Homo sapiens: one gene and its partners. The protein of the gene in region 6 purifies or fractionates together with the protein of the main gene of each other region. This does not show direct contact. Each region holds a gene or a part of one and is shown on either strand. Other genes may lie near its edges.

The links.
Region 1: the proteins of RAPGEF2 (region 6) and USP11 purify together in Homo sapiens (affinity purification with mass spectrometry, with the first as the bait; one large-scale study listed by BioGRID). This does not show direct contact.
Region 2: the proteins of RAPGEF2 (region 6) and BTRC purify together in Homo sapiens (affinity purification with western blotting; 3 studies listed by BioGRID, with this or other methods). This does not show direct contact.
Region 3: the proteins of RAPGEF2 (region 6) and COX5A purify together in Homo sapiens (affinity purification with mass spectrometry; one large-scale study listed by BioGRID and IntAct). This does not show direct contact.
Region 4: the proteins of RAPGEF2 (region 6) and MESD purify together in Homo sapiens (affinity purification with mass spectrometry; one large-scale study listed by BioGRID and IntAct). This does not show direct contact.
Region 5: the proteins of RAPGEF2 (region 6) and EPB41L5 purify together in Homo sapiens (affinity purification with mass spectrometry, with the first as the bait; one large-scale study listed by BioGRID). This does not show direct contact.
Region 7: the proteins of RAPGEF2 (region 6) and FLNC purify together in Homo sapiens (affinity purification with mass spectrometry, with the first as the bait; one large-scale study listed by BioGRID). This does not show direct contact.

What each region holds. Positions count from the first base shown.
Region 1 is NC_000023.11:47,245,370-47,249,472, reverse strand, and holds the end of USP11 (ubiquitin carboxyl-terminal hydrolase 11), read right to left. Parts: coding exon 3,991-4,103; intron 2,402-3,990; coding exon 2,252-2,401; intron 2,170-2,251; coding exon 2,054-2,169; intron 1,863-2,053; coding exon 1,774-1,862; intron 1,681-1,773; coding exon 1,543-1,680; 3' UTR 1,145-1,542; downstream 1-1,144.
Region 2 is NC_000010.11:101,554,836-101,558,353, reverse strand, and holds the end of BTRC (F-box/WD repeat-containing protein 1A), read right to left. Parts: 3' UTR 1,041-3,518; downstream 1-1,040. UniProt on the Homo sapiens protein: Substrate recognition component of a SCF (SKP1-CUL1-F-box protein) E3 ubiquitin-protein ligase complex which mediates the ubiquitination and subsequent proteasomal degradation of target proteins. Recognizes and binds to phosphorylated target proteins.
Region 3 is NC_000015.10:74,923,845-74,928,537, forward strand, and holds part of COX5A (cytochrome c oxidase subunit 5A, mitochondrial precursor), read right to left. Parts: intron 3,044-4,693; coding exon 2,922-3,043; intron 1-2,921. UniProt on the Homo sapiens protein: Component of the cytochrome c oxidase, the last enzyme in the mitochondrial electron transport chain which drives oxidative phosphorylation.
Region 4 is NC_000015.10:80,982,869-80,987,561, forward strand, and holds part of MESD (LRP chaperone MESD precursor), read right to left. Parts: intron 1-4,693. UniProt on the Homo sapiens protein: Chaperone specifically assisting the folding of beta-propeller/EGF modules within the family of low-density lipoprotein receptors (LDLRs).
Region 5 is NC_000002.12:120,071,577-120,076,269, reverse strand, and holds part of EPB41L5 (band 4.1-like protein 5), read right to left. Parts: intron 3,093-4,693; coding exon 3,050-3,092; intron 2,171-3,049; coding exon 2,092-2,170; intron 795-2,091; coding exon 750-794; intron 570-749; coding exon 517-569; intron 1-516. UniProt on the Homo sapiens protein: Plays a role in the formation and organization of tight junctions during the establishment of polarity in epithelial cells.
Region 6 is NC_000004.12:159,350,604-159,355,296, reverse strand, and holds part of RAPGEF2 (rap guanine nucleotide exchange factor 2), read right to left. Parts: intron 4,239-4,693; coding exon of another isoform or gene 4,116-4,238; intron 2,613-4,115; coding exon 2,387-2,612; intron 1,811-2,386; coding exon 1,251-1,810; intron 1-1,250. UniProt on the Homo sapiens protein: Functions as a guanine nucleotide exchange factor (GEF), which activates Rap and Ras family of small GTPases by exchanging bound GDP for free GTP in a cAMP-dependent manner.
Region 7 is NC_000007.14:128,835,939-128,840,453, reverse strand, and holds part of FLNC (filamin-C), read right to left. Parts: intron 3,295-4,515; coding exon 3,197-3,294; intron 3,057-3,196; coding exon 2,906-3,056; intron 2,818-2,905; coding exon 2,699-2,817; intron 2,468-2,698; coding exon 2,390-2,467; intron 2,188-2,389; coding exon 2,025-2,187; intron 1,852-2,024; coding exon 1,651-1,851; intron 432-1,650; coding exon 294-431; intron 1-293.

The DNA of each region.
Region 1 (4,103 bases), on a different chromosome or scaffold from region 6:
GCAACTGCCTTGACTTCTGCCTGTGTCAGCAGAGTGACTGGGAGGTTTGCGGGTGGCGATGCTGGGGCTGAGTGACCCTCACAGTGGGTCTGCCCAGACCCAGTGCAAAGGCAGAAGGCTGGGGGGAGTGTTGAGGCCCTGGCCATGAGAATGGCCTCTCAGCTGCCACCGATCAGGATTCCCCTCACCCATCAGTGTGAAGGGTTGGATGGCTTATTTATGTCCAAATTCCTGCGGCAGGTGTTCAGTGTCGTCTGGGGTGAGGTTGGAGGGAACCTGCCTGGTGTGGGAGCTGGGGTCATGATGGGAGAGGGGGCTGACTACAGGGGCCACACACAGACAGCACATTTGTCCTGGCAGGTTGGCTGGTCTGCCAAATGCATGTACCATCTCCAAAGGAGGTCTCAGGGGGACAAAATCTTCTCAGAGGACACTACTGGGGGTCTGTGAGGTGGTCTGGGGAATAGCATCCTTTTTTTGAGATGGGGTCTTGCTCTGTGGCCCAGACTGGAGTGCAGTGGCACGATCATAGATCACTGCAACCTCAACATCCAGGGCCCAAGTGATCCTCCTGCCTTGGCCTCCCAAAGTGTTGAGATAACAGGTGGCACCTGGCCTGAGAGGAGTATTTTTATGTCCCCAAACCACAAATTTGCCCACATGGATGCATCCGTCCCACGTGCTCCATTTCCACATTGCCTGTAGGGCAGCTCATGTCTGCAGATTGAGTAGCAGTCCTGGGTCCAGACAAGCCAAGCACCCACTCCAGGGACCGACTCGGGTAGCACATGAGGTATACTGACCTCCTGACAAGCCCTGAGCAATTCTGTGACCTCTGTACCTCAGTATCCCCATCCGAAACTGGAGATGACAACTCTTGCATGAGATTGTTGTGAGGATTACGTATCAATATTTGGAAAATATTTTGGAAAAAACTGGGCATGCCATTGGTGCTTGGAATCGTGCCTGGCACACAGAGGGTGCTTTCAAAGCACTTAGAACAGCAGTACCCAGCCCACAGCTGGTGCTCACTAACCACTCAGAGCTGCACCCATCACACATCTGGCCTTTGATAAGAACACAGAACACAGGCACAAAACTGGTGCTTAGTTAAGTCCATGGAGGAAAAAACCACACTGCTGAGTGGGGAGCAGACTGGTGCTTTATATATACACACACACAGCAGAAGGTACAGGGCCTCAATAAGAAAATACACTCTGTGTTCAGGTGAACCCCCATCACCACCCACGCAGAACACTCTGGGCTGAGGAGAGGGAAGGGCACGACCATAAATAAAGACTAGAAGGGAGGGTCACTGCTGGAAGGGCAAACACAGGCGGGGCGCGCACTGCTAGGAGGAGACACGACCTGTTCTTTCCCGGGAGAGAGCGATGCAGCGGCACAGGAGAACAGTAGCCACGACTAAGCCTGCAATGCCTGGCGGGGGCACCTAACACGAATAAGAGAAGCGGGGCGGACACGAGAAGCGAGATTGCAGAGAGGGCTTTTTTTTTTTTTTTTCTGTGGCAGGACCCAGGGCTCTCAATTAACATCCATGAACTCAGAGCTGGGTGGGGAGCTGCAGGCAGGGGAGGCTGGGGCGCCAGATGAGCCGGCCGGGGACAGCAGGCGTCGCGCCACGTCCTGGCGTTGGTAGAAGAGGACATAGGCTGCCTTGGACTGTGGGGAGAGGACAGGAGTCAGTGTGGATTGTGGGGGTGGGGAGGTGGAATCAGAAAGGAAGAAGGGGAGGAGGTAGGATGGAAGTCACACCTCGATCTGATTCTCATTGACAGGGGAGACGCTGTTGTCATCAAAGTAGTGCCACTGGCCGCTGTCCTTGTTGCAGGCAAATGTTGTGTCTGAAAGGGAAGGAGAGTTATCCTCGCCTACCCTTCCTGCCTCTCAGAAGTGTCCAGATTCACTCTTGTCACTCCTCCCACCACGATAACCTCACCACTGGCTCACATCCCTAGTCACTCACTGGGAAGGTCCTGATCGCCCCCCTGCCCAGAACCCCCAGGGCAGGCCCCACCCACAGCCTGGCACATACAGTGTCCATCACGCATGCCCCCATAATGGTTGGAAACCGCGATGAGGTCATATTTGTACAGCTCCGGATTCGACTCATTCTGTGGCTGGATGACAAACTCAGAGAAGTCCAGGTCCCTGTGGGTGGGGAGAGGGTTAATACTGGTACACCCCCTCCTTTCCCTGCCTTCCCCCAGCCATCCTCTCCCTGGCCCCTGACCGGATAGGAAACTCCACGAGGGTGTCCAGCTTCTCTCGGGAGAACTTGGTGTAGGAAAAGCGTTTCAGGTGGATGATGAGAATCTCCGGCAGCATCCACAGGTCCAGCTTCTTGGTTGCCAGCTGGTGCTGCTTGCAGGAAGGGCAGTACCTACAGACAGAGCCCGAGTCAGCAAACGGACTTTTTCTTTTTTTTTTTTTTGAGACAGAGAATCGCTCTGTTGCCCAGGCTGGAGTACAGTGGCGCGATCTCGGATCACTGCAGCCTCCACCTCCTGGGTTCAAGCGATTCTCCTGCCTCAGCCTCCCGAGTAGCTGGAATTACAGGCATGCACCACCATGCCCTGCTAATTTGTGTATTTTTAATAGAGACAGGGTTTCACCATGTTGGCCAGGCTGGCCTTGAATTCCTGACCTCAGGTGATCCACCCGTGTCGGCCTCCCAAGGTACTCGGATGACAGGCATGAGCCACAATGCCCAGCCAAAACAGACTTTTTCTGAGCACCTACTGTGCGCCCTTTGTACTGCCTCTCACGTGCCATGTCTGGCTCACAGAAACACTGCTCTTACTATTAGCCCATCTAGTATTCTAGTTTGCTCTGTTCCTGTTAAAATCCTTTCACTCACTCGTCAAGTGCTTACTATCTTTTGTATATGTGCTCATACTATTTTTTGTATTTTTGTTTGATTTCTGTTCCATGAGATGCTAGTCTTATTTTAGAGCCCACCTCTATCCTTCTAGTTTCCTCTCTTCGTATTTTAGTCATTCATTCACTCCCCAGTATTTATTGATTGCTTGTTTAACCCTTTGGAACTATTTTGTATTTCTGTTCCATTTCTGCTCCACGGACATGCTGCTCTTATTTCTGAGACTAGGGAGTGTGGTTTTGGTTCTCTTTTTGTTTATTCTGCAAGTGTCTACTGAGCATCAACCGAACACTCAACACTATTATAAACAGGTAGAAGCAACACACAGTGAACTTAAGTCTTCACCCTCGAGGAGTTGACTCTAACGAAGATGACAAATAACACAAAAGTGGATACAGGACATCACATCAAGTGGCATCGCTGAGCTAGAAAGTAATGCTTGGCTAGGAAGAAAAGAGCAGAGAGGGGATGGAGAGGGATGGTGGGGAAGGGTGATTTTTAACAGGGTAGTCAGAGGAGGTCTCTCTGATGAGGTCACATTTGATCGGAGACCTGAGCATCGTAAGGAGTGAAGTCCTGTAGATCACTGGGAACAACATTCCTGGAGAAGGAACAGCACAGGCCAAGGCTCTGGGGTAGGAGTCTGCTCAGGAGATTGGTGGCCAGGTTGGCAAGAAGGGTTTGAGTGTGGAGGAGGGAGGAGGAAGGTATACTTAAAGAGCTAAATATAGGCCAGGTGTGGTGGCTCACGCCTGTAATCCCAGCACTTTGGAAGGCCAAGGCGGGTGGATCATCTTTAGTCAGGAGTTCGAGACCAGCCTGGCCAACGTGGCAAAACCTGTTTCTACTAAAAATATAAAAATTAGCCAGGCATGGTAGTGGGTGCCTATAATCCCAGCTACTCAGGAGACTTAGGCAGGAGAACAGCTTGATCCTGGGAGGCAGAGGTTGCACTGAGCCGAGATTGTACCACTGCACTTCAGCCTGGGTTGACAGAGCCAGACTCTGTCTCAAAAAAAAAAAAAAAAAGCTAAATATAGTAGTTCCATCCAATGAAACCCCCACACACAGGCCCCGCTCTGGCCCCTCACCAGGGGTTTTCCTTCTCCAGGGTCTCCACAGTGGTGAAGAGCTCAATGCACTCCTGCAGCCGCACGGGAGCCTTCTTCATCACGTACCCGACGCAGTCATGCTTCACGTAGCC
Region 2 (3,518 bases), on a different chromosome or scaffold from region 6:
GACACAGTTTGAGGGTGAGGTCCACAAACTCTTAGGCTCAGCCTCTGCTCAGGAGCCCAGCTGGTGAGGAATATTAACTGAGCAGATACCAGTGGCCCCACAGTGGTTCCTCTGACACCTCCCTCCCTTCCTTCTCTCTCTTGGGTGCTGCCTGCCCTTAGTTGTTAGGGAGGATTCTTCAGTGTAGTTTTGGGCAATGTGGGTCCCTTTTCTTTCTCCTCAGTTTCCTCATCTGCCAAGGGTTGGGTGGACCTGATGCTCTGACATTCTTCCAGCTCTAGTAGGGAGGGTTCTGCACAGCGGCCCTGATATTGACCACAGTCTGAGATTGCTCATGGCCAGTGGTCAGTCCAGACAAGACAATGAGACTACAAGGCTGATGGAAGCCAGAGAGCCTTGGTCATGTGGAAGGGTTATTAATACAAAAAGCCCATAGATCTAAAAGAAGGATGGGTCAATTTTGACAAGGATCCTGTTTGTGACACTAGAGAGGGGAGGGGTACAGGGCCAACGGGGAGAGATAGTCCCATTCGGCCACTGCCTGCAACCTTGTACCTCTCCAGGTTTGGCTGAAGGAGGGAAGGGGGGTTTCACTCAAGAACTGCAATGTCATATCCCAGATAGTCAAGGGTGCCTTCATTCTTACAGCTTGTTGGAGCCCCTCTGGAAATTGCTCCCAGATGTGAGCTTGCTTGCCTATAAACTGATCAAATGGGATGTAGGGGAAACTCAAGTCTTTTCACAGCTGAGGGGCAGAGAAAAATGTAAATTCTGCATTCAGGTTGGGCTGTGGTTGGCTAAGGTGACCAATGCACAAATGAGACATGACTTTGGCTTCAATTTAACTCAACATGGAACAGTAGGCGTAAGCCAGGGACCCCACACTCATCCACAGCATCCAGCCCTGCTTTCTCTCAATCTTGTTTTCTCATGTCAGATTATCTGCAAAGGTATTCTATCTCTGCACTCCCTCAGTCTGTATACTGAAAAGTGTACTGCCCTTCTGGATGCTGGGGCAAGGAGACAAGACGCTTAGAAAATTCACTTTAATCTTATATTTGTAATTTACTTTTTTTCTGAACAGTTAAAAAAAACCCAAAACACACTCCATTATCATGATCCTAGGTTGTGAACATATTGGTACACTGACTACACATCACCATAACATAATCACAAAAGTCAAAGCAGTCAGTACTTAAGAGTCTAGAGAACAAAGAGGTGAACCAGCTGAAAGCTCTCGGGGAAGCTTACATGTGTTGTTAGGCCTGTCCCATCATTGGAGTGCACTGGCCATCCCTCAGATTTGTCTGGGCTGGCCTGAGTGGTCACCGCTTTGAGAAAGCTGTTAGTTTCCTTGGTGCCCAGAGGGCTAACACCCTAGTTGGCCTTTTCCTTCAGTGTCCAAGAAGGGGAAGGGTTAGGAGGGGAGGTAACACTTTAAAATACGACTTAACTGCACTGATCCTTAATAAAACACACAACCAATCAGGAGCTAAGAGCGCCAGCTGTGCTGGTTGGAAAGCACATATTTTAGATGTCATCTGCCTCCAGGACATTTTAGATCACAGGTACTCAACTTCCAACAGAAGGAGCTTCTAAAGATCAATGCATTAAGTTCCACCTGAAACCAGGCAGCCATCATCATGCTCTTTTGATTTCTCTCTTCAGCTCCAAGGATTCTGACACCACAGATGAGCTAAAGAAGCGAAACTGTTTTATTCCCCTAAGAAATGGCTCTCTTTCCGATACTATGTTGACACTGTGGTTAAAGGAGGTCTGGTCTGTTGGTGAACAACTGTGTGGAGGAAGACCAGGGAGGCTGCACCCTAAGCCTCCGGGCTGCACTAATCTGGGTTGGACTGCTCTGCTACAGACTGGAGGGTGTTGCCATCTAAGGCAAAAGGGAGATGCTGAGAAGGTCAACAGTACCAAGGTATCTAGTCCAATTATGGGAAAGAAAAAAATTGCCCTGATTATTTCCAGTATTCCCCACCCCTCCCACCTTTGTTTCCCCACACAATCAAGTGCTAAGTAAGGAGTAGACCAACTACAGCTGTTCAGACCAATGGTACCAGGAGCCGGCAAGGGAAGAGTGCATTTTTTTTTCTCTGTAGCTTTAGACTGTACAGAAGAAAAATAAAAAAGGATTGTTCTTACTCAAGCAAAAAAACCAGAATGATGTAGGGGTCTCACAGACTTTTCTAGTTCGGAAACAAGTTATGAGGGCCAGACTTTTATTACTTGTCAATAGAGATCCAAAAAGAGTCCCTGTCTCTGAAGTTAGGAGACACCAGAAAGAATTTTGCCAAGGGACATGTACAAATGGCCTTCCATCCATGATTCACATCCTTTCAAATTGCACACCAAGTTAAAGGATGTTCTCAGCAGTGAAATACACACACGTGCAGCAAGGCATGCTGGTCTTGTCCAAGTAGCTCCAGTGTGCACCAAAAGGTCACGTGTCTGTACCTCCTCATCTGCCTTTGAAGGGGTTTCAGCCTGTCTTTAAGAAAGGTTTCCTTTAGGCCCTACGTTGGAAAGTAAATTTTAGTGAGAAGAGACTAATCTACAATGGGGACACCTTCAGCTCTGTTTCTACCACTCCTTGGAATGTGCTGAGACTTTGTCTCTCTTTTCGTTTTAAAAAGGTCAAACTTTACATTTATTCTAGCCCAGTTGGGGATTAGTGATAATCAATTCCCACTGAAATCATGCAGAGATGGTAAGTGGGGTTTACCTTCTCTGGAAATGAACTTTTAACTTACCTGATTATTTCTTCTACAACAAACTGGTAAATGACCCCCAGAGCTGAGAAATGTGAACGATTCAAGTTTTTCAGACCACTTAACTTCATTCCCATTTCCATCAGCAGGAGAGAGGACAACTTGGAGAATATCCTCAACTGGGCTAATGGCTCCACATCTGCAGGGGTCGCCCCGATCTCCTTTGTGATGTACTGGACATGTCTCAAAACAGTCTTAGAAACAATATTCCTTCAACTGAACCTAGATTGGAGAGCAAAACCCTGGGCACCAATAAACATTCAACAGCTTCCACTTTGTAATAGCAGCATATGACAGAAAGGCTGGTAAAATTATGGCTATTGGGCAATATTTTGAGACAGCTCGAAACCCATGCCTTTTAAATGTCTGACCTGTGTGTTTTTCAGGGCTGACAGCCCTCTACCTTCATCTATAGCAAAATCCTTACCCAATCAAAAAGCCATTAATAGTCAACACAATAGATGACGAACCCTGATAGTGGCCAAGTAGAAAACATTTCTCTGTAGCATTTGGGTAGCTGGGAAGGGAATTACATTGAGAAAATATTTCTTAGGCTACGATGTATCATTATACTGGGAAATATTTTCTGAATATAACCTTGAACTAAAAGCTTAAAAATACTCATAAAGCAGGAAAGGTAGAATGCATATGCATAAAATGACTCTCAATATGTAGTAACAACATTCAGTGGGTACACCTTGGGAAGAGGATACCTTCTTGCCTGGGGAGACCAGC
Region 3 (4,693 bases), on a different chromosome or scaffold from region 6:
ATGCCTTTAATTACTTATGCAGAGGCAGGTAGGACAGAATAATACAGGTGATCAGCTGGGCATGGTGGCTCACACCTGTAATCCCAGCACTTTGGGAGGCTGAGGCGGGCGGATCACTTGAGGTCAGGAGTTCGAGACCAGCCTGGACAACATGGTGAAATCCCGTCTCTACTAAAAATACAAAAATCAGCCAGGTGTAGTGGCACATGCCTGTAATCTCAGCTACTCGGGAGGCTGAGGCAGGAGAATCGGCTTGAACCCGGGAAGCGGAGGTTGCAGTGAGCCAAGATCACGCCACTGCACTCCAGCCTGGGTGACAGAACAAGATTCTATCTCAAAAAACGAAACAAAACAAAACAAAACAGGTCATCTACTTTTAAGTTAACACATTTGTTCGGTAAGTAGGGCAACTTGCTGGGTGCCGTGGCTCATGCCTGTAATTCCAGCACTTTGGGAGGCCAAGGCGGGTGGATCACAAGGTCAGGAGTTCGAGACCATCCTGACCAACATGGTGAAACCCCGTCTCTACTAAAAATACAAAAATTTGCTGGGTGTGGTGGCACGCCCCTGTAATCCCAGCTACTCGGGAATGCTTGAACTAGGGAGGCGGAGGTTGCAGTGAGCTGAGATCATGACACTACACTCCAGCCTAGGGGACAGAGCGAGACTCTGTCTCAAAAAAATAATAATAATTAAATAAAAATAAAGAGGGCAACTTATATATGTACTGTTCAAGGTAGGCTTTTGAAATACCTTGAGAATAACTGCAATTGGACTAAATCCAGAACATCTTAAAGTCTAGAATTACTGGAAAAGAAGGTAGTGATGACAGAATTTTGTGAAGGCAATTAGACATGCCCAGCAGGCAACACGAATAATTAAGTTAACGGGAAAAGTTTTTTCATTTGCCTCCAATTTGAGACCTTAACTGAATTAACTACCAGTGCTGAATGGATTGATAGCCTACAGAACCCTTAATTATCTTACCCATTATAGATAAAGTAATGTCACACTTTTGCTGTTAACGGACCTTAAGTTTCTTTCTTACAGACCACAGTATCTTTTCATGGAGAGCTGTACTTTGAGAATACATATGTCCAGGGCTGGAGACTTTTCACTGTAATATATAGTTACACCTGTGCTGTCACAAGGTTCCTTAGGAACGAATAAGAAGTCAAAAGAACTAAGAAAGTGCCGGCCGGGCGTGGTGGCTCACGCCTGTAATCCCAGCACTTTGGGAGGCTGAGGCGGGCGGATCAACTGAGGTCAGGAGTTTGAGATCAGCCTGACCAACATGGAGAAACCCCGTCTCTTAAAATACAAAATTAGCCTGTAATCCCAGCTACTCGGGAGGCTGAGGCAGAAGAATTGCTTGAACCCAGGAGACCTCGGAGGTTGCAGTGAGCTGAGATCACGCAATGATTGCACTCCAGCTTGGGCGACAGAGTGAGACTCTGTCTCGAAAAAATAAATAAACTCAGAAATTATGACCAAATAAGAAGGAGGAAAATTAGTATATATCCTCCTATGTTTTCATATAATGTATATATATATTTTTTGAGATGGAGTTTCTCTCTCTTGTTGCCCAGGCTGGAGTGCAATGGTGCCATCTTGGCTCACTGTAACCTCTGCCTCCCGGGTTCAAGCAATTCCCCTGCCTCAGCCTCCCGACTAGCTGGGATTACAGGCATGCACCCCCACGCCCGGCTAATTTTTTATTTTCAGTAGAGATGGGGTTTCTCCATCTTGGTCAGGCTGGTCTCGAACTCTTGACCTCAGGTGATCCACCTGCCTCAGTCTCCCAAAGTGCTGGGATTACAGGCGTGAGCCACCGTGCCCAGCCGACACAAATATGTTTAAAGTCAAACACATTTCTACAGTATCAACAGTTGTGTAGTATAACCAGTTCTGGGAAGCTCCCTCTTAAGAATTCCTAACATTTCGTATGACAAATAGCAAGAAGATGAATACACTTTGTAGTTAAATCTTTATATATCCTTTATTATTTCCTTGATAAATTCCTTTCTTTTTTTTTTTAGAGACGGAGTTTCTCTCTTGTTGCCCAGGCTGGAGTGCAATGGTGCGATCTCAGCTCACTGCTACCTCCGCCTCCCGGGTTCAAGCAATTCTCCTGCCTGGGCCTCCCAAGTAGCTGGGATTACAGGCATGTGCCACCATGCCCAGCTAATTTTTTTTTTTTTTTTTTTTTTTTTGAGACAGAGTCTTGCTCTGTCACCCAGGCTGGAGTGCAGTGGCGCTGTCTTGGCTCACTGCAAGCTTTGCCTCCCGGGTTCACGCCATTCTCCCGCCTCAGCCTCCTGAGTAGCTGGGACTACAGGCGCCTGCCACCACACCCGGCTAATTTTTTTGTATTTTTAGTAGAGACAGGGTTTCACCGTGTTAGCCAGGATGGTTTCGATCTCCTGACCTCGTGATCCGCCCGCCTCGGCCTCCCAAAGAGCTGGGATTACAGGCGTGAGCCACCGCGCCTGGCCTAATTTTTATATTTTTAGTAGAGACAGGGTTTCACCATGTTGGCCAGGCTGGTCTCAAACTCCTGACATTGCATGATCCACCCGCCTTAGCCTCCTAAAGTGCTGGGATTACAGGCATGAGCCATCACACACGGCCAAGATAAATTCTTAAAAAAGAAAGAAAAAAAAAAAAGAGAGAAAAAAGAAAAAAGATAAATTCTTAAATGGAATTGCTGAACAAAAGTGTATCATGTACAATTTGTAAGGCCTTGAATAAATGCTGCCAAAGTAGCCTCTAGAAAGATTTTAACTGCAATGTACATTCCTTCTAGTTATATAAGGACTCATTTTAGGCATTTTAACAAATTCAAAAATACAGAATATTCTGATACCTCAGCAATAGCCCACTCATTTACAGAACAATTTTAGCATTATTATTTCACTGACCTTAACAACCTCTAGGATACGAACTGTACTAGCAAAATCATTTAACCGTCTGCATGCCCGCAAAGCAGCATCAATGATTTTGGGCTCTGGAACCATATCATAGGTAACAAGTGTGTTTATCCCTGCAAAATTAAAAAGAAGGGCCATGTCAACCTCGAAGAGCCTCACTTAAACTATGAGTTATTTATATTTTTACTGAATCACTGATGTATGATCTTATCTGTCTGGGTCTCCATTCTCTTACCTATAAAATGAGAGAAACCTACCTTTAACAAATTCTAGATAATAAGATCACAGTGGATCTCCCTTAGTGAATCAGTGGAAAGAAAGAACTATGCAACAGCACGCAGATTGAAGGAAAAAATCCTGAGTTTTTTTTTTCCCCTTTGAGAACAAGAGGGTCATTTTCAACTCCTAACTTTTTTTTTGGAGATGGAGTCTTGCTCTGTCACCCAGGCTGGAGTACAGTGGTGCCACCTCAGCTTACTGCAACCGCTGCCACCTGGGTTCAAGTGATTCTCCTGCCTCAGCCTACCAAGTAGCTGGGATTACAGGCGGGTGCCACCAAGCCCAGCTAATTTTAGTATTTTTAGTAGAGACGGGGTTTCAGCATCTTGGCCTGGCTGGCCTTGAACTCCTGACCTCGTGATCCACCTGCCTCGGCCTCCCAAAGTGCTGGGATTACAGGCATGAGCCACCACATCCGGCCCTCCTATCTTTAACTCTTAGTACAATGAACACATTTTGGATGCTTTAAAAGAGATTCAAGGCTGGGCTCAGGTGGATCACCTGAGGTCAGGGGTTCAAGACCAGCCTGGTCAACATGGAGAAACCCTGTCTCTATTAAAGATACAAAATTGGCCGGGCGTGGTGGCACATGCCTGTAATTCCAGCTACTCTCGAGGCTGAGGCAGGAGAATCACTTGAACCCAGGTGGTGGAGGTTGCAGTGAGCTGAGATCGCGCCATTGCACTCTAGCCTGGGCAATAAGAGAGAAACTCCATCTCAAACAAAACAAAACAAACAAACAAAAAAACCAAAATAAAAGAGATTCAACTGGAAAACAGCCTAAAAACAGCCAGAGAAATGCGTAGAGTTAATGAAGCCTAAATGAGGACATTAAGGAGATATTATAGAGAAACATTAGTACACAGACTCATAAACATTCAACCAGAAAATGATTGGGCATGATTACTTTCAGATCTGCACAAAATGACACATAATAAAATTTAAGATTCTCTTAATGGGAATACATAATTGTTCTTTTTATTACTTCTACTCCAGATTGTTCAGTAAGAATTCTATTGGTTGTAGCAAAAGGGAATCATTACATTTCTGCAGAGAAGTTTAAAGCACTTAGGTTTCTTGCTTTTATTACTTTAAAATATTTAAACAAAGGATACCAGTGAATACGATAGTCATTGAGATTGAATTTTTGGTATGAGATAAATTACCCTACACCTAATTCTATTTTTTCATGTTAAGTGTGCATCTGCAAATTTAGGAAAGACAAGTTCTAACTTACTTAGATACTTATTCATGGCAAAACAATGCAAAAATAACAAAAAACCCAAACCATCACCCAAAGGGGAAGGGAACCAAATGACTGCTTTGTGTAAATTCTTTTTTTTTTTTCTGAGACAGAGTCTCACTCTGTTGCCCAGGCTGGAGTGCAGTGGCGCGATCTCGGCTCACTGCAAGCTCTGCCTCCCGGGTTCACGCCATTCTCCTGCCTCAGCCTCCCGAGTAGCTGTGACTACAGGCGCCCGCCA
Region 4 (4,693 bases), on a different chromosome or scaffold from region 6:
CCAGGAGTTCGACATCAGCCTAGGCAACACAGTAAGACTGTCTCTAAAAAAAAATTTAAAAGTAGCCAGGTATGGCAATGCACACCTGTAGTCCCAGCTACAGTGAGGCACACCTGTAGTCCCAGCTACTCAGTAGGCTGAGGTGGGAGAATTGCTTGAGCCCAGGAATTTGAGATCAGCCTGGGCAACATAGTGAGATCCCATCTCTTAAAAAAAATTTAAAAATTAGTCAGGTGTGGCGGCAGGTGCCTGTAGTCCTAGCTACTCAGGAGGCTGAGACACGAGGATCACTTGAGCCCAGGAGATCAGGGCTGCAGTAAGCTATAATTATGCCACTGCATTCCAGCCTGGGAGACAGAACGAGACCCTGTCTTAAAAGAAAAAAAAAAAAAGAAAAGAAATACTCCCTCTTTGCACTGTATACTTAAAATCTGCACTCCATGTATACCCATTTCACTTAATAGGCATTGTACAAAAATATTCAATTCCAGTTAGCAGGTTTGTTTTCTGTAGTGGTATGGGCTAGCAATTCTGAGACTATCTTATGTGACCTCTAGGATTGAGAAAAGGAGTAAACATATTGAGGGTAATGAGAGCCAGGTTCTTAACTTCTGGGAAGTAAGTTACAAACATGAAAGGGGGAAGAATGAGCCCTGTGGTATTAGGCTGGAATTGAAGGTATCAGGAGAAACTCATGGTTTTTCATAGATTAACAGATGAGTAAACAGATTAATGGATAAAAATATTTAAAAGAGCGTGGGTTCCTTGGAGAACAGGCTTATAGCAAGAGAGACAGAAGATGAGCCTAGAATAATCCCGCATCACAAAGTAGTAAAGTGCTCAAAGAATCGTGAACATGTCAAAATGCCATGGAAGCCAACTTGAAGCAGCTCTCATGGGCCAAAGTTGAAATAATCTCAACATCAAAATAAATAATAGTATGACTTACAACCCCTCAAACAAAATGAGATGTTGAACCCATAATGATCAAAACAAATGAATAAATTACTAATAGAAAACAGTAACTTTTTTTTTTTTTTTTTTTTTTTTTGAGATGGAGTCTCACTCTGTCACCAGGCTGGAGTGCAGTGGCACGATCTCGGCTCACTGCAACCTCTGCCTCCTGGGTTCAGGCGATTCTCCTGCCTCAGCCTCCCGAGTAGCTGGGATTATAGGCACGCACCACCACATCCAGCTAATTTTTGTATTTTTAGTAGAGACGGGGTTTTGCCATGTTGCCCAGGATGGTCTCGATCTCCTGACCTCGTGATCTGCCCACCTCGGCCTCCCAAAGTGCTGGGATTACAGGCATTAGCCACCATGCCTAATAAATAGCATATAGACTGACAAATAAAAAATCTTTAATAGAACCAGGTTCCTTGGAGAAAAGGCTAATGCCAGCAACCAAAAAAAATGAAGTACTGGCTGGGTATGGTGGCTCACAACTATAACCTCAGCACTTTAGGAGGTCGAAGCTGGAGATCACCTGAGCACAGGAGTTAAAGACCAGCCTGAGCAACATATCATGACCCTATCTCTACCAAAAAGAAAAAGAAAAAAGAAAAAAGAAATGAAGTACTGATTGATACATGAAAATATTATGCTAAGTGAAAGAAGCCAGATATGAAAGACTACACATTCTATGATTCCATTTATAGGAAATGTCCAGAATGGATAAATCTGTTGAGACAGAAGGTAGATAAGCGATTGCCCGGGGCTGGCTAGGGAGTTGGGAGAACACAGGGGAGGAGTGGTTGAAGGTTTCTTTTGGGGATGATAAAAATGTTCTAAAATTGAGTTTGGTGATGACTGTACAATTCTCTGAAGATACTAAAACTAAAATGTACACTTTACATGGGTAAATTGCCTATGGCATGTGAATTGAATCTCAATAAACCTGTTACCAAAACAAAAAACAAAAAAAAGCCCCTAAGTCACTCTTACTGAACAATATCTGAAGGGCCAAGGCTTAAGATACCATTAATAATGTACTATATTAAAAATAATTTTAGTAAAAAGTAAAAACGAAAGAATTCTACGCAGTGCTTGAAGGTGATCCATACCGACGTCAGACCTGGAATCTGGTTTCAGTTTTGCATAACTAGCTGTGTGACCCTGCCTAAGAATCCTTACGCCTCGAGGCCTGTTTCCTCATTTACAAAATGAAAAGCAGAACGAAGTGATCTCCAAGGCCCCAGTAACATGACCACACATAACACACTAACCTTCTTTTCCACTCTGCCACCCTCTCAACTGACATGTTTCTTCCTCACTTTGCTTTCAAAGAGCCACTGATGGTGACTTGCAGACAGGAGCATGGGCTGTGCTGTCAGACGGATGCGCTCCATCACTATGTGGCCTTGGGCAAGTTACTTAGCCCATCTGAAAATAACTTTCCTTACCTATAATGGAAAGCTGAGGGTAATAACAGCTTCTCCCTCCTAAGGTTTGTTTGGGGATGTAATGACTTAAAGGCAAGCAGAACTCAGTACTGTATCTGTTGGCTATGACACTGCTGACTCTTTAGGCCTCTGTGATCTGGCCTCCAACCACAATCACTGCATGGAAATTATACTCTCAAGTCACAAAGGACCTCCTAGTTGCCAAATTCACAAGTTGTTTCTGTCTTTATCTTAATTCTCCATAACATCGGTTATAGTCTCTTTAAAACACTTCAAGACTTCCAGTTGGTTCAATACCCTAGAATATTTGTATTTTTCAGATTGATTTCACTAATAATCATGAAATTAACTCAGTAGGTCCCAAGCAGCTTTTTTTTTTTTTTTTTTTTTTTTTAGATGGGGTCTTACTCTATTACCCAGTTTGGAATGCAATGGTGCTGGTGCAATCTTGGCTCATTGCAACTTCTGCCTGCCAGGCTCAAGTGATCTTCCTATCCCAGCCTCCAGAGTAGCTGGGACCACAAGTGCATGCCACCACACCTGGGTAATTTATTTTTGTATTTCTGGTAAAGACGGGTTTCACCATGTTGCCCAGGCTGGTCTCGAACTCCTGAGCTCGAAGGATTCACCCGCCTCAGTCTTCCAAAGTGCTGGGGTTACAGGCATGAGCCACTAAGCCCAGTCCAGCACTTCTTTGTTAATGCAAATATAATTAAATAGTCGTAAGTCTAGTGCATATAATACAGGTAAAAATTGTTTCAAGAGACTTAAAAAAAAAAGCAGCTTTAATTTCCATTGTATATGTGTGTGTGTGTTTCAGTTACAGAAAAGAAAATTGCAAAATAGTACCCTAATGAGCCTGGAGGACATTATGTTAAGTGCAATAAGCCAGACACAGAAAGACAAATACCGCGCATTCTCCTTCGTATGCGGACCTAAAATAGTTGTGTTCACATAAGTGGAGATTAGAATTGTGGTTACTAGAGGCTGGGAAGTGGAGGGGAGATAGGGAGAGAGGATGGTGAATGGATACAAAATTACATTAGATAGGAAGAATAAATTCTAGTGCTCTATAGCATTGTAGGATGACTATAGTTAACAATAATTTATTGCATATTTTCAAACAGCTAGGAGAGAATTTTAAATGTTCCCAACACAAAGAAATGATTAATGTTTAGGAGACAGATATGCTAATTACCCTGAATTGACCATTACATTTTATACATGTGTAGAAATACAACTCTGTACCCCATAAATATGTATAATTATTATATGTTAAAATTGAAGTGTAAAAATAGTACCCTAGATGTACATAATTATCCAGTTCTACCCTTAGTCTGGGTAACCTAACCTGTTATGATCAGTGTGTTTATGCTGAAAACAATCCAGTCTTTACCCTGAGGCAGAGCGGGGGGCCAGGGACAAGTCAGGCAGTCCCCTGACTCCAGTCCTAGCCCTGCCTCCAGGCCAGTCTTGCATTTTCAACTGGCTTTAGAGCTCCTTCATTACTGTTTGTCTAAGTCAGTAGCTACAAAGCTGAGCTCCCCTTTCTGCAAATCCTCTTCTTCCTCCCATGGTTCTTGATATTAATAATAAGTGACATCTACTAAGTAGCTACTAAGTCCCAGGCACTCTACATATATTATCTCCAACCTTCAGAACAATCCTACCCGGTTCCATTTAATATACAAGGAAGATGATGTTCAGAGAGGATAAATGATTTACTTAATTTACTCACATGCTAGAAGTGCAAACCACATTTCTGGCTCCAAATCCCTCCAACTGCCTCTTCCCATTATACCTGGCTATCATAATGTAAAATGTAATAACCACCTTTGGTTTTTCTACACCAATTGGGACTCAGAATTAGTTGTAACACAATGGAAGGAATTCTCACCTCTCCACACCTCTGAGGCACAGCCTCTCACTGAAGCACTGTTTCTCACACTGCTGGGGAAGGAGTGAGGGTATGGATTTAGAGATGGTCACAAGAGGAGAAGAACTGCTTCCTACAAAAAAAGCACCCACAGAGATGGATACGCTCTCCCACATAAAAAACACTGCTACTGGGGAAGAGTCCTCATGTCTGTAGAGCGTCTACAAACATTAACTCATTTAATCCGCATGGCACCCTGCAAAGTAGGGCGTTATCTGGCTTTACAGATACGTAAAACTAGGATGAAGTAGCTAGTGAGGGGTAAAGCTGAGTTCAAAATCTGTCTTTTTTTTTTTTTTTGAGACAGAGTCTCACCCTGTCGCCCAGGCTGGAGTGCAGTGGCATGATCTTGGCT
Region 5 (4,693 bases), on a different chromosome or scaffold from region 6:
ATCTAAATATAGTCCCTGTCTTCCAAAATTTTAAAATTATTAATCCTAAAGAAATAACTGAAAGGAACTAAAAAAAATCGGGGGGAGAAAGCAGCAGGGAAAAATCTGAACAATGCACAAACATGTATGTACTCATCTGTGGTTATTTCTGAACAAAATGTAGGTTTGGAGCAAAAGGACTGCTAAGCTATATGGCTTCACCAACAATTCACTCCTACATAACTGCATTTCTTTTAAGGAAAAAGTTAGCCGAAGGCCCAATCTTAGCATTTACAGACTTATCAGGTAGAGTATGACGTTTCAACACTTTAGGTGGAAAGGGCGCAATTACATGAAAGAGAAGAAAAAGAAGGCAATGTTCTAAAACAAGTAAAAGTCAGAGTTGGACCCTGATACAAGTTTATACAAAAACAGTGTTGTTTCTTTTCTTGCACATAATTAGAATCTTCTTTAACTAAAAACACACACAAAAAAGATTATACTTGAGTCTTAACAGTCAACATAAGAATTGCTTACCTTGCAGATTATAAGCTGCCAATTGCACTGCTGTATCAAAGGGACAGTCTAATCTGAGACCAAAACACAAGTTTGTTAGACAAGTTGATTTCATAACCTTCATTTTAAGACAAATGAAAATAATACATGTTTTATGTTGACCATTTCTTTTTTACAACTATAAACTTATTTTCAAAATAATTTTTCAACCACTCACGAAAATGTGCATTTATCCTTAAATAACTAATACTCACTTTCCACTGAGAATATCTTGTTTTAACTGAAGAACAAATAAATACCTAAGAAAAATGAAAGGCACAAATTTAACCCAACAGCACAATCGACTGTGAAAAAAAATCTTACACTTCTAACTTGAGAAGTATTATTTCATTAAAAATTACTTGTATTAATGTATAAAAGATGTGCATAGTTTGGGGATACATGAAATAATTGAATACATTCATATAATTTGTAAGGATCAAGTCAGTATACGTGGGGTATCCATCACCTTAAATATTTTTCTCTTCTTTATGCTAGAAATATTTGAATTATTTTCTTCTAGCTATTCTGAAATGTAAAATACGTAATTGTAAACTATAATCACCCTACTGATCTAACACTAGATCTTAGAAGTATTCTTAATTAAAGGCCTGGTGCAGTGGCTCACACCTATAATCCTAGCACTTTGGGAGGGCGAGGCGGGTGGATCACTTGAGGCCAGGAGTTCAAGACCAGCCTGGCCAACATGGCGAAACCCCGTCTCTATTAAAATACGCAAATTGGCTGGGGGTGTGAGCACGTGCCTGTAATCCCAGCTATTTGGGAGGCTGAGGCATGAGAACTGCTTGAACCTGGGGGAACAGAGGTTGCGGTGAACTGAGAACATGCCATTGCACTCCAGCCTAGATGACAGAGCGAGACATCTACTTGTTATGTGAAGGGATACAGACATGGATATAACTACAGATGATAGCTACTATCTCATTGTCAAGGTGTTCTAAAGGAAACCCTTCTAAAGGAACTCAAAAGCTCAACTTTTTCATTTAATAAATAGTATGTGTATATGGAGCAATGAATTTATAATAGAGACCATGAATAAATACAAAGGAGGCAGGATAACATTAAAATAAGTATATACAACATAAGGTTTATTCAAAACTATTCAAACCAATCAGAATCTAATGTTTTTCATTAATCAATGGCATTTCAATGAGTAAAGAAAGTTGGGCGCCAATTTGAATAAACTCCCTGTGGCCAAAGATAGATTATTTTCAACATCAATAAATATAATATTGCAATGTATTGAAACATGTGAATCCTGTTAACATTCCTGAGTTGAGAGTGATACTTAAAAAAAAGAACTCACTAGTCACCTTTGGAGGATGCTAAGAAACCAACTCTTTATTTTGAAAATGCTAAAGGAAAAGAATCATACACTTAAAAAACACGTCCCAGAATAAAATTCTATTATTTGAGGTCTTGTTACCAGGGGACAGGAATCCATTTTATTAGCTGGCTATAAATTGGAAACAATATAAAGACAGTCTTTCAAAACTATCAAAATAACCCTGGCACAATTCTAGATGGTGTTCTTACCGGGTTAGCTCCTCACGAAGGTTATTTGGTTCTGAGGAATAAAACTTAACTCGAAGATGCAGACAATAGGGTGAACCAACTGTCATTTAAAAAAAAAAAAGGTTTTAATAAAATAAACTACTTAAATAATACTTTTCAGCCAGAAAACTGGTCAAAAATCTACTGAAGTGAGACAAAAGATGAGGTTTTTATGGCATTATTGCAGGTTAGATCATAGGCTTCAATTAGATTGTTTTTTAATGTACCAAGCCATCATATTACTATTAACTCTCATCCCAAGAATAGACAGCTATAGATTAATTCTAACAGTTCAGAGCCAAATGCATCAAATAAAAGTCTTGACTGTGCAACCTAACAGCCCTGAAAACCTGCTACACTGAAGAATGCCTATGTTATTAACTGCTCATGGTGAATCTTCCCACACAAATACAATTCAGCAAGTTCACTAACTTCTATAATCTCAGTGGTCTCATTATTTTGAGACAAGAGTTGAGGTGCCCTAATAAGTCTGATAAAAAGTCAAGTTGGATAATGAATAAACAATGGTATTCTCTCTCTGAATGACACTAACATTTTATGTGAATTGTTTCATTTTTCTTAATTTTAAAATATCACAAAGTCTCAAAATACTTTCAATATTAGGGCAGATGCCAAACAGGAAAATTCCAACACAACTAATTAAAAAATAACCATTAAGCATTTCGGGGAAAGTCAATCCCATTTGCAAGCTGCAAGGTTTTCTCCTGGAAAGTTAAGCCCCAATGCAGTTTAATCTAGATTAGTATCAAGCCTACATGACTTGGGGAGTAGCTCAGTGTATCAGAATAAAATAATTTCTAGAAAATGGAAATGCTAAAAAACTCATCTGAAACATGATTTCTTACATCCTATTAGAAATCAGAATTTCTAATATATTCTATTTCCTTTCCCCCCCACAAATAATTTTGTCTGCACTTACTTTTTACTTGCTTTTTGATGCTTTTTGTACCATCCAACCAATGCTGAAAAACAAAAACAAAAATTTAGTTAAGCAGATGACAGAACTTTAAAATTTGAATGAATTACTAAAAGTTACTTTTCATTGTGCCTACACTGATAACCGCAAGGAAATACTTCACAAGAGAAAAACCCAAGTGAATGAGAAAAGAGGTGAGAAGGAAGAGTATCTAGCCAATATCCACCATAGCAAGCTTATGACACACGTGAACAAAAACGACCTAAAACCTGACAGATGACTTTTTTTTTTTTTAAATACTTTAAGTTCTGGGATACATGTGCAGAACGTGCAGGTTTGTTACGTAAGTATACACATGCCATGGTGGTTTGCTGCACCCATCAACACATCATCTACATTAGATATTTCTCCTAATGGTATCCCTCCCCTAGTCCCTCACCCTCCCAACAGGCGCCAGTATGTGATGTTCCCCTCCCTGTGTCCATGTGTTACCATTGTTCAACTCCCACTTATGAGGAAGAACATGCAGTGTTTGGTTTTCTGTTCCTGTGTTAGTTTGCTAAGAATGATGGTTTCCAGCTTCATCTATGTCCCTGCAAAGGACATGAACTCATCCTATTTTATGGCTGCATAGTATTCCATGGTGTATATGTGCTACATTTTCCTTATCCAGTCTATCATTGATGGGCATTTGGGTTGGTTCCAAGTCTTTGCTATTGTGAACAGTGCTGCAATAAACATATGTGTGCATGTGTCTTTATAGTAGAATGACTTATAATCCTTTGGGTATATACGCAGTAATGGGATTGCTGGGTCAAATGATATTTCTGGTTCTAGATCTTTGAGGAAATCACCACACTGTCTTCCACAATGGTTGAACCAATTTACACCCCCACCAAAAAAAGCATTCCTATTTCTCCACATCCTCTCCAGCACCTGTTGTTTCCTGACTTTTTAATAATGGCCATTCTAACTGGTGTGAGATGGTATCTCATTGTGGTTTTGATTTGCATTTCTCTAATAACCAGTGATGATGCGCTTTTTTTCATGTGTTTGCTGGCCATATAAATGTCTGCTTTTGAGAAGTGTCTGTTCATATCCTTCACCCACTTTTTGATGGGGTTGTTTTTTTCTGGAAAATTTGTTTAAGTTTCTTATACATTCTGGATATTAGCTCTTTGCCAGATGGATACATTGCAAAAATTTTCTGTACATTGTACATTTTGTACATTGCCTGTTCGCTCTGATGATAGTTTCTTTTACTGTGCAGAAGCTCTTTAGTTTAATTAGATCCCATTTGTCAATTCTGGCTTTTGTGGCCACTGCTTTTGGTGTTTTAGTTTGAAGTTTTTGCCCATGCCTATGTCCTGCATGGTACTGCCTAGGTTTTCTTCTAGGGTTTTTATGGTTTTAGGTTTTACACGTTTAAGTCTTTAATCCATCTTGAGTTAATTTCTGTATAAGGTGTAAGGAAGGGTCCAGGTTCAGTTTTCTGCATATGGCTAGCCAGTTTTCCCAACACCATTTATTAAATAGGGAATCCTTTCCCTATTGCTTGTTTTTGTCAGGTTTATCAAAGATAAGATGGTTGTGGATGTGTGTTGTTAATTCTGACGCCTCTGTTCTGTTCCATAGGTCTATATATCT
Region 6 (4,693 bases):
TACCAATTTAAAAATTCTAAAACTATTACTATAAGGTGTCTATTTTTCTTAAAATCCCTTTATTGATGCTCATGACCTAGAATATGAAACCTGTATAGGCCAGTAAAACTAAAGTTTCATTTTCTTGAACTTTTAAAACTCAATTGTTAGGAACTAAAAATCATTCTTCCTTCCTTTGCAATAAAAATTCTGAGTATTAGTTGTAAGCACTTGAAAAAGTCCAACCTAAGAATATTTATTAACTGTTTTCTCCTTATTCATTGTAAAAGGATATTAAACTTGAAATCTACCCATGACTATTTACATGGCTAAATAACTACAATTTTCCTACTAATAAAAGTAATGTCCGTAATGATTATACTCCAGAATTTCTCACTCTACAACCTATCATCTGTTCCTACACTTCGTCTATATAGATGTTAATTGTGCCATAGAAAACACATCTCAACAGGACTGAGGGCGCATGAGAGCCTCTTCTAACAGGAACAGCAGCAGCAATAGCTTTCATGTACTTAGTGAATCTACTATCTGGGCACTGTTCTAAATACTTTGCATAAATTTCCTTGAATCCTCACACTAACTCCATTAAGTAGAAATTATGAAGCTCATTTTACAGATGAGGAAACAGGCACTGTTTTGTATTTTACCCAATGTCACAAAACTAATAAAGTGGCAAAACAGGGATTCAATCCCCAGTCCGCCTGACTCCTAAACCCGTGCTCTTAGTCATTACACTATTAGCACCTCTCCCTCCTTCTACAGCGTGCACAAAGAATTGCTTATCAACAATGTGCGTGCAGAATAAAAATCAATGGAAGACTTTTAAGTATACAAAGCGTATAGTTCTAAATACAATCAAGAGAACAAAATAGAAGAATCAAAGATATAAAAGAGTTTCAATTAAAGAAAAATTTCTCCTCTATGAATAATAGGAATCCATCCTGATTTTCAGGTTAAGAGAAAAAAATTAGACTAGATAATATTCACAATGACAATCTACTCATCCTGATAGCTAAGATTTATTGAATGTTTTGTTATATAGGAACAGATCTGTAGGTACCTGACCACAAAACCTGGGCTCTTAACCACTATTGATTTCAAAGACCTTAACACACCACTAATTTGGAAGTCCTACATAGCAATGGAGAAAATGAGGAAAAGAACCAACAAACACATAATTTTACTATTGTAATAAGTTACATTAAAGACATGATCCAGACATGACAAAGTCCCCCAATTTTAAAACTTACCAATGAGCCCCTTTGTAGTACTTGATGCCACAGCTATGTGGGCAGGCATGGGGACAGGCTTGGTTTCTTCCGTAGTCACAGACGTTAGGCTACTGCTTTCGGCTTCAATGGAAACATCCTTTCCACCCCTCCGCTTTATTGTGCCTGTGTCACCTTCTGAGTCTTCTCCCCAGTAACCTGTGGAAGACGCCCAGCTTGCTCGGGACTGGGCTTGTTCAAGGCTCTCTCTACTTTGATTTTGCCTGTTATACTTTGTGCTATGATCAGAAAACATAATTTGGTCCATATGGCTGCTTGATGCCCATAAACCTGCAGGATCCCCTGAATAATCAAAGTGAGTATGCCCGAATGGAAGAGTCTCCCAGCTTCTCTGGTGCTGGATCGTCTGTATATTATCATGGGAGCCACTTGAGCATGACGTCCAGCTCCCACGGCCACTGTCAGCAGCATCAAGTGACGCGCGATCCCCCTGATCCTGGGAAAGTTCCTCTGTGCTTGGAGAAGAAATTACTGTAGCTGTAGCATATAAGCCTCGGCCCTCGGACATTGGTGCATAGGACCTAAGTGGTTAAAAGAAATGGAAAAGAAAAAAAAAACAAGATTGATAACTAATTCACCTATGATAAAACCAAAATACCCTTTTTCCTAGAAAGGTAGCTTGCTTTCATCCCAGAAACAGGATAAAAGTAGCACTGAATTGCCTTATATTGGCCAGTTCTGCCATGTCTAGCCTTCTGACTTTATCATTACTATAAAACAGGCATGCGGGAAAAGAACGCAACGTGCCATTAAAAAAAAAAAAATTCCCCGACAACATTAAGGGTGGCTCAATATAATTTGATTATTTCAGGAAGGCAGCTCATACGAAACAACTGGGATGGATCCTACAGTCACCCTCTGCCTTCAGCACAGAACAACTGTGTTCCAATGAAGAATAAACTTAACTAAAAAAGCAGTCTGCTTAACAAAAATAACATGATACTTAGTGTAGAAATTGTGAAAATCAGAACTGGGATGGCAGAAAAATTCTTAGGCATTATGTAAAATAAATAAAAACAAACACTGGAAGAAAAGACTCATTATTAAAACAGAGATGGAAGGATAAATTCAGAAGAATATTAAAAAGAGCCACCTACCCCAAGCTATACTGATCAGGTTCAATCATGGTCCGCCTCTCCATCCTGCCCATCCCTAGGTTTGTTTCCACGATGCTGACAGAATGCCTCTGGCGCCTCTCATCGTGCAGTGAGACTGGCACTGAGTCAAAAGACGAATTGCTAACAATACTGGATCGTGAAGAAATTTCACTGTGACCAGAATCTGAAAAATTATCCACAGTACCACTGGGAGCCAAAGTATAGCCTGCATGAGAAATACAACCGTATTAATTAGACTCTCTAGGTTTATAACATCAAAGGGAAGTCTACCAAATAGAAGCAAAAATAAAATGCAGGCATAGATATCTCTTAAGTGGGGAGAAAAACCCCATTTCACTTGTAGAGACCACATGACTAAGAGACAAATGTTTTATTCTAATGAAGCTTAAGTTGTTTAATCGAAGTTTAGAGAGGAAAAAAGAAAGTATCCTACAAGCTAGGAAAAGATGCAGAAAAGGCACCACTCAACTATTCTTAGCTCCCTTACCTATATAATTACACTATTAGTCTACAGAAAAGAAACCATGAAGAATAACGGATCAGATTTTAAAGTATGTTTTTTTCAAAATGCAAAGCCACTGATCTTGTTTTCAACAGTTTTCAATTTTTAGAACTTGTATGGCATAGACTAATTCAACTGGAAATACCTGTATCCTACCTACAATTTTAAGTAAACATATAAACAAAAAGAATAAGAAATAAGACCTGAAGATGTCTTTGAATTTTTGCCATTTGGTTTTTCAATATTAATATTGGTTGAACCACATAAAAGCCAATCGTTTTGAAGGAGTTAAAGGGCACTTTTCACAAGATCATTACTATAGAATATCTAAACAGATGTCCACTTCTTGGCCTGAAAGGACCCTTAACTCTCTTTTGCTACTAAAAATAATTTTGAAAGACACAATGGCAGGGGCCTATCTTGATTTTTTTGTTTTTGAGACGGAGTCTCCCTCTGTCACCCAAGCTGGAGTGCAGTGGCGGGATCTTGGCTCACTGAAAACTCCACCTCCTGGCTTCAAGCGATTCTCCTGCCTCAGCCTCCCGAGTGGCTGGGATTACAGGCATGTGCCACCATGTCTGGCTAATTTTTTTTTTTTGTATTTTTACTAGAGACAGGGGTTTCACCATGTTGGCCAAGCTAGTCTCGAACTCCTGGCCTCAGGTAATCAGCCTGTCTTGGCCTCCCAAAGTGCTGGGATTACAGGCGTAAGCCACTGCACCCGGCCCTATCTTGGTATTTTTAATGAAAAAAATCCAAATCTTCTTTCTCAATATTCATTTTTTCTTGTCTACATTACTAGGGATCTCATGTTACTTAAATATTGACTTTATCTTATATGCAATGCAAATTTCTTCAATGCCACTTACCTAAGAAAAATTAAAATCTAGAGCATCTAAATGTTGCCAGTTTAAGTATGTTCTTTCAGCATATTGGTAATTCCTGATTTATTTTTTAAAGGCTGCACAGGTCTTGATAAGATTTAATGTGTTCATTTATAAAATGTCTTTTTATAAAACCACACTGCAAGTTCTGACAGATAAGATTTAAAGCCCTCCCTGAACAGTCTGCTTAAAAAAAAAAAAGTTTCAGAAAAATAAATCACTCAGATGGAGCACTTGACATTTGGAGGAATTCTCCCATTTTCATTAACTAATGAGATGATTCCTCTCTTTCCCACCCCATTTTTGGTTCTATAAACCCCACCTATCCCATAGGTCCGTGGTGCATTGTTATTCTTGTTACTGTTCTCACTTCCAAGAGAAGAGGAGGAACTGGTTAAGTCCAACTGCCCGGAGCCAAAAGATCTCAGCTGATTGCCACTGCCACCTAACAACAGGATGAGAAAAGAATTGAGATGCATCCATGTAACAAGGACAGGAGAGACTGATACCCATACAAAATGCACAGATGTCTGAAATATCTACCAAGTAAAGCAATACCTGTTGAGTCAGTGAAATTTAACAATGTATTAAGCCCTTTTGGCTTTCCTTTAGGGAAAACTACGTCCTAGCCATTTATTATTGGCTTACACTCATTTAGTTAAAAGGGTAGGAGGAGGAAGTAGCCTGAAGAGTTATGCAGCAGAAAATTACCTACTCTTTTAATATGAGAATGTATCAACATAAGGAGGCGACTGAGTACCTAAAATATAGTCTCTAAAAATAAAACAAGGTAGCAACCAAAAAGGTAATCAAGACCTGTGTTAATACAATGAAAAAATAAATCAGGAAGATATTAGTTTTTCATGTTTTCAAAGCCCTCTTCTCTGTACTAATGTCATA
Region 7 (4,515 bases), on a different chromosome or scaffold from region 6:
CCAGCCCGAGGGCAGTGCTGTAGTGAGCAGTGCTGCAACTCAGGGCAGGGAACACTTGTCATCCCTGTGCATAACACCCCGTATAGCACTTAGGGTGGAGAGAATCATTCCTGGCTTGTAGACCAAGAAACTGAGGCAGAGAGGAGACAATGAGCCTGAGATTCTGGGGTGCCTCTGGTCACTGTGGAGCTGTGGTGCTGGCTGTCACTGCCCTCTGGGAGTCAGAACCACTGGCCATACTTCCCTTATGATCCCCCAGCCCCACCCTCACGACCCTGGGCTCTGGCACTCACTTGGCCCCTTGACCGTGACCTTGAGCTCCCCGCTGCCGGCACCCTTGGTAAACACCTTGAAGTCAGCCACCTCTTTCACGCGAACACCCTTGGGCTGCAGGCCTCGCCCAGAGGCGCGGCAGGCGTTGGGGTTACAGGCTAGGGGAGGAAGAGAAAGGAGGTTGGGGGTGCTGAGGGGCCTTGGACCACTAGCCCCCACCTCCCTGTGCACAGTCCTTCTAACCCCTCCCAGGCACAGGCAGTGGCCCACGGCCCTGCTCTGGAGCCCTTTGTGTCCCCAGCACAACCGGGGCTGCCGGGCTGGAGCTGGCTACAGGCCCCAGATCAGGCAGGTTACAAGAAAGTTTCCGAGCCAGTGCCACTGGGGAAATGCATGGCAGAGCCTGGGCTGAGAGTGGGCTCAGAGAGACAGGGAAGGCCCCTTTACCCAGCCCAAGGCCATCCATCTAGAGCCCTCTGGGCCTCTCAGGGCACCAAAGCAACCTTAGGATCTAAGTCATGCCACAAAACATCCAGCAATGCCACAGAACAAGGGCTACTTCATAGAACTCGAAGCCTGCCATACAACACAGGCAACGTGTGGACATCAGCCTACCACAGACCGTGGCCAGTGGCAATGAGCCCAGGCCTTGCTATGGAACACAGGCAAAGGAATGGGAATCTCAGCCTGCCACAGAATCCAGAAAAATGGCATGGGACCCACAGGTGCTACGAAACAGGACACGACACATATTCCAGGACTACCATGACCATAGGCGATGGCACTGCCCAAGGGGTACCACGGAACACAGGCAATGGCTCAGAGCCCAGATTTCATCATAGAAATCACCAGGCAAGTGGCAAAGACACTAGACCTGCCACAGAACACAGACAACGGCATGGAACCTGGGGCCTGCCACAGAATGCCAAGGAAGGGGGGGCGATTCCACACGGCCCGGGCCATGCCACACAGCACAGGTGAGGCCAGTCAGCTGCGGCCATGCCTGGCCCCGCCTCCACTGGAGAGCATTAATGTGGCATCACTCTCGGCCTGGTGGACGATGGGCACTGAGTGCAGGGAGAGAACAAGTGGGGCAGTCACCACCTGAGGGCTTGGCATGCAGGCAGTACTCCCTAGATATGCCCCCACCCATACAGCCCCGTCACTTCCGCTCAGCCCTCCCAGGGTGGCACATGTTCTGGGACCCTTCACTGTGGCCTCCCAGCTGTGCTCTTAGGAACTCCAGCCACCTTGGGGGTGGGATGGAGGACTCAGGGAGGGGGTCTCTGCAGACCCCCGCCCCAGCTCTTCCTCCTGCCCCTTGCAAGCCTCTGGCTTTGGTAAGGGCTACCGTGGGGAGCAGTGAAGGGCCCTTACCTTCCGACACATGGACAGGGAAGGGACTGCGGGTGATGGGGGCACCCGCAAAGGCCACATGCACGGTATGTGGCCCCTCCATGGCAGGTCTGTATGTGCAGCGGAACGTGCTGTCACCCTTGTCCTCCAGGGCCACCTCCACTGTGTCCCGCCGGCCCTGTGGGTCCACGATCACCACAGCAACATCGCCAGTGCCGGCCCCTGCCGAAAACAGAGGCTGTCAGCACCACTCTGGACACACACAGCTGCCCCGGTGCCCTCACCCTGAGGCTGCCCACCCTCTGGCTGGCATCCCTGTCCCAGCCTCCCCCCACCCCCACACAGCCCCACATGGTCAGGGGCTTTCCACCTGCACCCCCTGGGGCCCGTCCTACCCGCAGTGTAGATGTCAAAGTAGGTGGGTTTGTTGGCCACATTGCCCACAGGTTCCAGGCCAGGGCCACGGGCTGACACCTTGTTGGCATCTCCCAGGGCCATGCCCACGTTCACCTCAAAGGGACTGCGTTCAATGTTCTGGCCAGCAAAGAGCACGGTCACCTAGGGGTCAGAGGTCAAAGGTTAGCTTCTAGGGGAGAGCAGTCCTGAGAGGGGGCAGAGGGGCACAGCCAGGCCAAGGAGGGTGAGAGGCGGGCAGCTGGGGCTCTGGGCAGGCGCGAGGTACAGGCTGAGAGAGGGGTCCATGCAGCCGGAACCAAGGATGTGAAGAGCAGCGCAGGCAGGGGGGCCTAGAGGGAGATACCTTGTGTAACCCAGCGACCTTGGGCACATAGGAGACAGCATAGGTGCGATCCTTGTCATTGTTGGGAACCACCTTAGCCTATTAGGAAGGAAAAAGATTGGAAGCCTCTCCAATGACCATAGCCCCTCCTGACCCCACAGTGCCTTATGCACCCCAGCCCCACTCAGCCCCCATGGTGACACCTTCCCCAGACTGCACAGCACAGTGTGTGGCTCTGGCAGTCACCTCCGGGCCATTCCTGTTGTTGGCCCCACGCTCTCTGGTTCCAATCCCAAGTGAATCCCTCTGTCCCCAGCGGCCTCTGCATACCTCCTCGGTGTGGCCTTCAGGGTCCTCGATGTAGACCAGCACCTCGCCCACGCCCGCGTCCACCGTCTGCACGGTGAAGTGGGCAGGCTGCAGCACGGTGTTGCCCTGTGGCTCGATGCCTACGGGGCAGGAGCAGAGCCCAGGTTACTCAGGGAGAGCCTACATGTGCCCAGCTGCCCAGGAGGGCCGCCAGGGGCTCACACATACCAGGCCCATAGGCGATGGCTTTCTTGGGGTTCAGCTGCTTGGATCGAACAGGGGCACCAGGTTTGAGCTTGGCCTTGGGGAACTGGGACAGGTAGGTCATAACAGAATGCTCATCCACGTTGGGGTCCACAATCTCCTCAGGGGCAATGACCTGCGATGGAAAGGAGTGATGTCACATGGCGCCCTCTTTTCCCAGCAGCCCCAGTCTCCCCCTGCACCCTGGCCAGGTAAACTTACAGACCCAACCTCTGCCCCTGCCCCCTTTCCCCCCTGCCCCATCTGCGCATGTACCTGGGGCACCCCAAGCCAGTCGTCGGCCTGCTGCATGGCCTCCCGGGCGTTCTCCACGGGCTGGTTGGGGTCCCAGGCCTCCCAGTCGGGGCAGAGACCTGGAGAGGTGATGGAGGGAGACGATGGTGAGGGGCAGCCAGCCGGCCAGGATGCAGGGCATTTGTTCACCCAACACCCTCAGAGGCTGTGGCTTTACACCCCTTCCCACCAGCTCTAGGCCTTGACCAGCCAGGTTCCTGCTGACCCCATCAGCTTCGAGGCCCCTCACCACGTAGGAGCAGGACAGCCCTCTCCACCACCAACAATGAAGCCTTTCTGCCCTGGCTGACGCAGCCTGGCACCAGCCCTGCTGGCCGGCCTCCTGCCTGCCCAGGCCCCAGCTCAGACCTTGAACCCCAAACCCTGGGAGGGTACCCCCTCTCGCTATCTCTTGCCTCATTCAGCTTTCTCAGGGGTGGGCAGAGGAGGTCAGAGTGCCTGTCCCACATATGCCCCTGACCCATCCCCCCTAGAAGGCCTCCTCACAGCTGCCCCGAAGCTCTAGAACTCCAAACGCTTTCCACACCAGTCTTAGGGTATGAGACTCCCTATTCCTTCTAACTGCTCACTTGGGGAAACTGAGGCATTAAAGGGCCTGTGAGGAGAGAATGACTTCTCCTCTGCAGCCCTCAGGAGCCCTGCCTTCCTAACAGGAAGGACGCTGAGGCAGCCCCAGATCACTCCTATGAACGGTGCAGGTGAAGGGGCGCTTGGTTTAGGCCAGAGCTGGAGGAGGGGGACGGCACACCGTTTCGGGGAGGGGGCCGGCTCAAGGCTGGAATCCATGACTGGCTGGAACAGCTGAGCTCACTGCTGGCAGCCACACCAGTTATGGGCCATGGCTCAGCAGCTGGGAATGCTTCCCAGGAGGCTGTGCCCCCGCCTCCCACCCTCTGCTCCCCGGCTGACCCCAGGGTGGAGGAGGATTCTCCCGAGGGGCTGTGACTCCTGGAGAAAACCTATCTTTTCAGGAGATGAGGGGCAGAAAGGGAGCTGTCCATGGGGTACGCTCTAGCCAGTGATGCCTCAGCTTTTTTCATGGCCCCTGAGCTGTCCCCACTTGACCAGGCCAGGACCTACACGGAGAAGGGGCAAGGCTGGCTCACCTGCCACCAGGCAGTGCCCCACTGGCCTCATCCCACATCATCCTGAGCCTCAACCCCTTCTCAAAGTCATCCCAGGGTCTCCCAGAGAAGAGCCTTCTCTGGATCTAACTCCTGGTCTTGCTACAAGTCCTGGTCACCACACTGCCTCTCTCTCAGCTCGGCAGGAATAGTGCC